Linked DNA regions of Homo sapiens: region 2 is linked to region 1. The links come from fine-mapping of genetic effects on gene expression. A gene starts in region 1. The other region holds a variant in brackets. All regions are shown on one strand. Distances are from middle to middle.

Region 1 (4,400 bases):
TATTCCATGGTGTACCACATTTTCTTTATCCAGTCCACCGATGGGCATCTAGGTTACTTCCATGTCTTTTTATTGTGAATAGTGCTGCGATGAACATACACGTGCATGTGTCCTTTTTTTTTTTGAGGCAGTTTGTTGCCCAGGCTGGAGTGCAGTGGCATGATCTTGGCTCACTGCAACCTGTCTCCCAGGCTCAATTGATCCTCGCACCTCAGCATCCCAAGTAGCTGGGACTACAGGCACTCGCCACTATGCCCAGCTAGTGTGTGTGTGTGTGTGTGTGTGTGTGTGTGTGTGTGTGTGTTTGCCATGTTGCCCCGGCTGGTCTCCAACTCCTGAGCTCAGGGTGATCCGCCTGCCTCAGCCGCCCAAAGTGCTGGGATTACAGGCGTGAGTCACTGCACCTGGCTGTGCATGTGTCTTTACGGTAGAACAATTTATATTCTTTTGGGTATATACCCAGCAATGGGATTGCTGTGGACCCCCAATTTTAATGACAGTACTTTCCCTATTTTAAAGGACTCCTATGATGCTTTAAAATCATGTGTGAAACGTAGGAGATTGAAAGAAAAAAAAAGACTCCTATGATTCTTTCATGTCCAACCAACTTAGGCTAGAAAGAAGGAAAATCAAATAGGCAGGCACTGTGGCTCACACCTGTAATCCCAGCACTTTGGAAGGCCGAGGTGGGCAGATCACCTGAGGTCGGGAGTTTGAGACCAGCCTGACCAACATGGAGAAACCCCGTCTCTACTAAAAATACTAAATTAGCCAGGTGTGGTGGTGCATGCCTGTCATCCCTGCTACTTGGGAGGCTGAGGCAGGAGAATCGCTTGAACCTGGGAGGCGGAGGTTACAGGGAGCTGAGATAGCGCCATTGCATTCCAGCCTCGGCAACAAGAACAAAACATCGTCTCAAAAAAAGGAAAATAAAAAAGGGCAGCCCAGTTCTGATTACAGCCGACTAAATGCAGTTACTCATCAATTACTTTATAGTCTCAGAAATATGCACCCATTAAGATTCAGCACATGTATAAATAAACTTATGTACCTAATGTTTACACACACCTTACTACTAACCCTACACTGAATGTATGGTTTATTCTTGCCACTGTTGTATCTTTCTAGACTCACACATTACCATCAATATGCTGCCTTTTATTTGTTGTAGAGAGTATCCCAGAGTTGGAAGATCCTGAATTTGAAGCCTGTTTCTCCCATTATTATATGGCTTTCAGGAAGGGGAACCATCTGAAGAGAAAGGGTAGGTAGACTCAGAAGACCAGTGGCCTTATAAAACCGTAATTCCGGCCAGGTGTGGTGGCTCACGCCTGTAATCCCAGCACTTTCGGAGGTTGACGCGGGGGCGGATCACGAGGTCAAGAGATCAAGACCATCCTGGCCAACATGGTGAAAGCCTGTCTCTACTAAAAATACAAAATTAGCCGGGTGTGGTGGCGCATGCCTGTAATCCCAGCCACTCGGGAGGCTGAGGCAGGAGAATCCTTTGAACTCAGGAGGCGGAGGTTGCAGTGAGCCCAGATAGCGCCACTGCACTGCAGCCTGGGCGACAAGAGCGATACTCCATCTCAAAACCAACCAACCAAACAAAAACAAAGATTGTAAATGTTTGTTTGGTTTGCCCTGGAAAGAGAAGGCTTCTACTTAGAGTCTGAATCAAGGAGGAAAAGGAAAGAAAACAAGTTCATCTTTCATCAAAAGTCTACTTTGCATCGGACACTTAAATTCCTAAATGGGGAGAAATGCAAAAAACTCTGACTCTTCAGAGTCATAACTAACATTATCTTGCGCCACAAGCTTATCAAGAGTGCAATACAAGTCAGTGTCTTCTCTTTTCTACTTAAAAGAAAATTCTCGTTTTTATTTATTACTTTATTGCAAGGAGAAGCAGACAATAAGTAGGAGTCTTATGAGGCGTTCTGATGCATAGGAGCAATGGTGAATGAGGGTGGTGACTCACCACCCCATGGGACTCCAAGGTTTTGGTGACAGCTCGCCTGAGCCCCAGGGGGTGCCGAGATTGCGGCGAGGAGAGCCGCAGCACAAGGCAAATCCACGCGGTTGGTCCCCGCTACGCCCCCGTAGTCACCCGCAGCCCCTCGCCAAAGGGCGCTCCGCGCATGCGCACAGGATCCGGCTCGGGAGGCGGACCCTGGCTGCCATCTTGCAGTGCGCGGGAACCGCCGCCGCCGCCGCTGGCCAAAAAGCGGAGCCCAGGGGAAGCGTGTCCTGCTCAGACCGCCTTCCTTCTCCATTGCCACCCGTGCCGAACAGCCAGGCTGCCCAATTGCAACTGTAGACCAATGAACTAATCCATCGCCCGCAGCCCGACTCTCAGCAGCGGTTCGTCCCGGTGCCCACCCCCGCGAAGCGGAGCGCCCGGGCACCTAGCCTCCCTGCCGGCCACCTAGCCTCCCTGCCGGCCACGATGCCGAACGTGCTGCTGCCGCCCAAGGAGAGCAACCTCTTCAAACGCATCTTGGTGAGTGGCCGTAGGCCGCGCTGCCGCCCCCCGGTCCCCGGGTCCTCGGGCCTTAAGGGCAAGCGGTCTGGCGGCGGCCGGCGCGGGCCAGGCTTGGCCTCCGCTGCCCACCGCTCTTTGTTTACCTCGGAGGTCGCGGGACCCCACTTTCCCGCTCCGGCCGGCCCACGGGGGCTGCCGAGCCGCTCCTCCGTGCGCTTCCTTTCCGCGGTCTTCTGCGGCTCGCCTCACCCCCGCCGCGCTCTTTCCAGAAACTTCACGCCGCTCTCCGCAGTGCCCGGGCACAGCCGCCTCGGCCGGTAGTGGCTGCCGTGCTCTCTGCCGCGCCGGGCTCGCAGCAGCCCCTCAGGGATCCTCCCCCGGTGGTTTATTTTGCCAGTCTCTCCTCGGCTAGGTGTTTTGCGTTCTGCATTCTCTGCTTTGCGTTTAGTTAGATTGCACAGCACACCCGCATACCTATTAAAGCGGGATCGATGCGATGGTGGAATTTTTCCTGGTTACGAGGAAATAAAACCGGCAACTTTAGGAAGCCAGGCCTGGCACCACCTCCCTTTGGGAAAAAGTTTGCCTGTTTGTAATGTACCTTATTTACCTCTTTGGAAGTGAATATTTGACTTGAAGTGCGTTTCTGAGTTGTCACCAACTTCAAAACAGCTGTTTGCTTTTTAGTCGCACAGGCCTTGCTTGAGTAATTAAAGCCGCGTGGACTGGCTGGTTTTGCATTTGAGGGGAGCATTTTTACTTTATCGCGGAGCAGAAGCCTGAATAATGGCCCCGTAGTGATGACCGCTGCGGAGCCGGGTGGGCAGTTTTCTGTGGGCTGTGTGCCAGCGTCCCTGGTAGCTTTCCAGGTTCTGTTCTTCCAAGGAGAAGAGGCAGCATTCCTTTGCTTTCCTCAGTATCCTCTGGCTACCCTAGGTTTTAAACTAATATTGTTAGTAGGTAACTGTCTTTTCTAGTTTATCTTTTCACCTGAAAAAAAGCTTTTATTTGCTAAACATGCATTTAGGTTTAAAGGTGAATTTATTGAAAGCTGGGTTGGCTATATGGCTGTTAGTTGTTGCTTAACTTTACTATAAATAAAATACTAATTTTAGAGTAATTTTAAGTATGAACAGCGGCAGATAATTCATAGTAGCTGTTCTGTTTCAAGACGATAGAAACTTCACACTTAGTCTTCAGATTAGGATACATAGTAGATGGGATAAAAATTTTAAATATTATGTGGTGCTTAGTTTTGAACCAATAATAAGATACAAATGTGAGAACATTAAAAATACGAATAATTAAAGCACGTGGCAGGTTGCTTCATTGGGCTTTGTATTTTTTTATTTTACTTCTCATGCCCTTTTATTTTACACAGCATGGAATTGGAGAAGTAATTTATTTATTTTTATTTTTAATTTTTTTTTGCCCTGGGAATCTGAAACATTAATGATAATATCATTTATAAATCGCTAGTTGGATTTCAGGACATTTGGCATCATACTTTAAAGATGACAGCACTTCTTTTCTCTTTATACGAGTTTTTTGTAGTTCAAATCATGGATCAGTGTCATAAGGAAAAAGTTACATTATTATTCTTAAATTACAAAAAAGGTAGGGTTTATCCCCAAATAAATTGGGAAATGGTAACCACTAAAAAAAAATCAATTATTTTGAGATGGAAGTCTCGGTTTGTTGGCCAGGCTACTGTCGAATTCCTGGCTTGAAGCGATCTTCCCACCTCAGCCTCCCAAATTGCTGGGATTACAGATGTGAGCTACTGTGCTCAGCCAAGCTAAACATTTTTAAATCTAGGTATGTAATGTTTCTGACAAGGTTGCGTGAATTTAGGAGGATTCTGCATAAACGAATGATTTTATCATTTCACAATTGCAATAAATGTGGGTAAAAT
Region 2 (4,400 bases), 27 kb after region 1:
GAAAGATATTTGATATTGTGCTAAATTCAGAATGGATAGTTGATAACTTTTACTTAAAACTATGACTTTTTGGGTTTATAAATTGGATAGGAGCATAATTGCTTCTGAGGGAGCTTTATTTTTATTTAGAAAATCATTTTAAGAATTGTTTGCGTGAACCAAAGAATAACAAAGTACGCTTTTGTTTCTAGGTGAAAGATTTAGAGAACTAATGGATAAGTTCCTGAGGGTTAACTTCAGTAAAGGCTGCCCACCCTTGTTTACTACTTTGAAATCTTTATATTACAATACAGAAAAGGTAAAATTTGGTATTTATTCAGATTTGCTATAGTCTTTTTTACTAAACTGTAGAAAGATGTCCATGTAAATAATGTGCTATTACTTAATCATTTTCTTTGTTTCAGTAATGTTACCTTACTTTCAGTCATGTACTGAAATTACATGCCTGTAGTATAAGTAATATCAAAGTAAAGGGTTTATGAAAGCACTAAGATTATAAAGGTTGTTTATTTTTAATAGGTATACTTTTTTTTAGTAGGATTTTAAATTTGACATTGTTACCAAAGGTATATATTTATTTTGTGATTATTATTTTATGGTACAGTTATGGATTTTTAAATTAGTTATGCATGCTTTTAAAGTTAGAGCTTGGATAATTGAGTTAGTGCAACAGTAAAATGCAATTTGGTCAAATTACTGGTACAAATTACTAGGTTTAATCAGTAGGCTACATTTTAATAAATACAGGTTTAGCTAGTTCTTGAATAAAGAATTGTCTTTCTGCTTTTTAAAATTAGAAAATAGGCCAGGTGTGGTGGCTCATGCCTGTAATCCTAGCACTTTGGGAGGCTGAGGTAGGCAGATCGCGAGGTCAGGAAATTGAGACTATCCTGGCGAACACGGTGAAACCCCATCTCTAGTAAGAATACAAAAAATTAGCCGGGCGTGGTGGTGGGCGCCTGTAGTCCCAGCTACCCGGAAGCTTGAGGCAGGAGAATGGTGTGAACCTGGGAGGCAGAGCTTGAAGTGAGCCGAGATCGCGCCACTGCACTCCAGCCTGAGTGACAGAGCGAGACTCCGTCTCAAAAAAAAAAAAAAAAATTTCGAAAATAGGCACTTAAATCTTGGTCTTAAATTAGAAAGATAATTAAAAGTTAATAGAAAGCAAGTTATACTTTTATTTCCAAGTGTTGCTTCTTATTAAAGTCTAAAATCTTGTTGTCTTTTCTATAGTCAGTTTTTTAAAGTTACTACTGGATAAGGAAAAGATTTTATTAGAAATGCCAAAAAAATTTTAGTTAAGCTTCTGTCATATTTATTTAGCTTTGATTCATAATAATTTGTAAATTTGCAGTAATTGTGAATAATACAATGTTGGAAACATCAGTTATAGATATAGCTGATTGGCATTTTCCTACCTGTGGCAGCAGGTTTCATAAACAAAAGAAACAACTGATGATATCTAGTACCCAGTTAGAAAAAAACATCATTTATGTTAAAAAAAACAAAAAAACCCAAAAAACCCTTACAATTCCTTAATGTCTGTTGTATGGTCTATTTGACTGCAGTGTTTCTGTTGTCAGTTTTTTGAGAGATAGTGATTGATTTCTGTGTAAACATGTACCCGGTGCCTGCCAATAATTTCTCTAGATTATTTAACATTGGGTAAAATTCTTTTGTTCTTTTTGGTGAGGGTGACAGAGAAGAAAGGTTAGATGAAATGCCAGAAATAAAAAGAAATCTTA[T/C]GTATGTGAATTAGAGTACTTCTTTTATAACAGTATTGCAGCAGCTACTGACTACAGTGGACATTAAAGGATTTGTTTCTCTTAAGCTATCACGGGGCTTTCACAGGGTGTTGTTCATAGGCATAGGCTTTTTACTTTTTAAAAATTCTTCTAATATTGATCCAAAGTTGCCATTACAAAAATGCTAAACTTTTTTTTTGGTATTTTATATAAAGCATGAAAATTATGTTTTTGAATAAGGCACTGAGAATACACTAATTCATACAGGAACCATCTCTTTAGTGTTAATTTTAAAGCAAGCAACAGGAATGCTATATTATTAGAAATGCCAGAACACCAAGTGTGTTTGCAAAATGAATTAAACTGCAGAAAATTGAGCTCCAGTTATCTGAATTTAGTATAGTGAGAAAAAATTTGCAAGTCTAAGAACTGTTTCTCAAATAATTTTGGCCACATGTATCTGTGATTTACTCATGAGACCATTTTATTTATTTTATTTTTTAATATTTATTTTTCAATTAAATTTTGTAAGTTTTGTGTTTGACTTTTTTTGTAGTTTCAAAAAAATTATTTCAATAGATTTTGGGGAGTAGGTGGTGTTTGGTTACACAGATAAGTTCTTTAGTGGTGATTTCTGAGATTTTTGGTACACCCATCGCCTGAGCAGTGTGCACTGCACCCCAGGAAGCCATTTTAAAAACTGCACATTTCTAAGCAGCAGTAAGACCTGTTTTTAGTAGTTAGCTGGATTTTTAACTTTCGAGGAAGGATTTCAAGGAGGTGAAGTATGACAAACAGCTATTGTTTGTAAGTTTCCAAATATTAAAGAGTAATTCATGTTGGTATCATGAAAATGAAATTGTCTTTTGAAGTTAGTTTAGAATGTAGTACAGTTGCAAGAAATGTATTTCTTGTTTTTGTTGTTGTTGTTTGTTTGTTTGTTTGTTTGTTTTTGAGTCAGAGTTTCGCTCTTGTTGCCCAGGCTGGAGTGCAATGGCATAATCTCGCCTCACCGAAACCTCTGCCTCCCAATTCAAGCAAATCTCCTGCCTCAGCCTCCCGAGTAGCTGGGATTACAGGCATGTGCCACCACGCCCGGCTAATTTTGTATTTTTAGTAAAGACGAGGTTTCTCCACGTTGGTCAGGTTGGTCTTGAACTCCTGACCTCAGGTGATCTGCCCACCTCGGCCTCCCAAAGTGCTGGGATTACAGGCGTGAGCCACCGCGCCTGGCCGAAATGTATTTCTTAAATGTCTCCAGCATTTAAATTTTTTTGGCAAACTAGAGTTTGGGTAGAGTGGAAGGCAATGAGTGGTTGTCAGACAAATTCCATAACTTTTTTTTGTTTGTTTGTTTTGTTTTTGTTTTTTTGAGATGGAGTCCCACTCTGTCGCCCAGGCTAGAGTGCAGTGGTGCAATCTCGGCTCACTGCAACCTCCGCCTTCCGGGTTCAAACGATTCTCCTGCCTCAGTCTCCCAAGTAGCTTGGGAATACAGGTGCCTGTCACCATGCCCAGCTAATTTTTTGTATTTTTAGTAGAGACAGGGTTTCATGATGTTGACCAGGGTGGTCTCAAACTCTGGCCTTAAGTGATTCACCCACTTTGGCCTCCTAAAGTGCTGGGATTACAGGTGTGAGCCACTGTGCCCGACTAAGTTGCATAAGGTTTTTAAAAACATAGGTAGGTATTTGAAATGGCACTCATTTTACTTTTGTCAGTGAGGTTTTGGAGAAATCTTTGGTGAAGAAAAGGAGAAATTCTCATTTTCCCAGCTTTCTTTAATGTTGAAATAGAATCTTCTATAAACTCTGATATCAAGGTGTTCTTGTCTTTTATAAATAAGAATAAAATATTACTAAAAATATATTTATATCCCTTTTAAGTTAGATTTTGTTAAAGTTAATATTGTTTTGTTTCTTATTATCCATTATATAGGTGTCCTGTCCATAACAGATAACTTGCTGAGATGATATACATTTGCTTACTTGTTTTGAAAAGTACTTAAAAAAAATTGCCAGTCTTTGAGTGAGGCTTTGGGGTCTCTCCATTTTGTTGATCTTTTCAAAAAACCAGCTCTTGGATTCATTGATTTTTTTGAAGGGTTTTTTGTGTCTGTATTTCCTTCAGTTCTCCTCTGATCTTAGTTAGTTATTGCCTTCTGCTAGCTTTTGAATTTGTTTGCCCTTGCTTCTCTAGTTCTTTTAATTGCGATGTTAAGGTGTCGATTTTAGATCTTTCCTGCTTTTCTTGTGGGTATTTAGTGCTATAAATTTCCCTCTACACACTGCTTTAAATGTGTCCCAGAGATCGTGGTATGTTTTGTCTTTGTTCTCGTTGGTTTCAAAGAACATCTTTATTTCTGCCTTCATTTTGTTATTTACCCAGTAGTCATTCAGGAGCAGGTTGTTCAGTTTCCATATAGTTGTGCGGTTTTGAGTGAGTTTTTTTTTTTTTTTTTTTTTTTTTTTTTTTTTTTTTTTTTTTTCCGAGACGGAGTCTCTCTCATTGCGCCCAGGCTGGAGTGCAGTGGTGCGATCTCGGCTCACTGCAAGCTCCGCCTCCCGGGTTCACGCCATTCTCCTGCCTCAGTCTCCAGATCAGCCGGGACTGCAGGCGCCTGCCACCGTGCCCGGCTAATTTTTTTTGTATTTT

Evidence for each region. PIP is the estimated chance that this variant, and not a neighbour inherited with it, causes the effect.
Region 2: its variant is the best candidate, but not a certain one, in a credible set for the expression of NAA16 in whole blood (INTERVAL, PIP 0.56).

The regions. Positions count from the first base shown.
Region 1 is chr13:41,309,080-41,313,479 of GRCh38, forward strand. It overlaps NAA16 (N-alpha-acetyltransferase 16, NatA auxiliary subunit), which reads left to right and starts at 2,188. Exons shown (of 20, transcript NM_024561.5): 1 at 2,188-2,503. The coding sequence starts at 2,450. It also overlaps a transcript of MTRF1 not described here.
Region 2 is chr13:41,336,459-41,340,858 of GRCh38, forward strand. NAA16 (N-alpha-acetyltransferase 16, NatA auxiliary subunit) reads left to right here. Exons shown (of 20, transcript NM_024561.5): 9 at 192-298. Among named protein-coding and RNA genes, the nearest start is that of NAA16, 27 kb to the left of the region's middle. The variant T/C (reference allele first, on the strand shown) is at 1,746.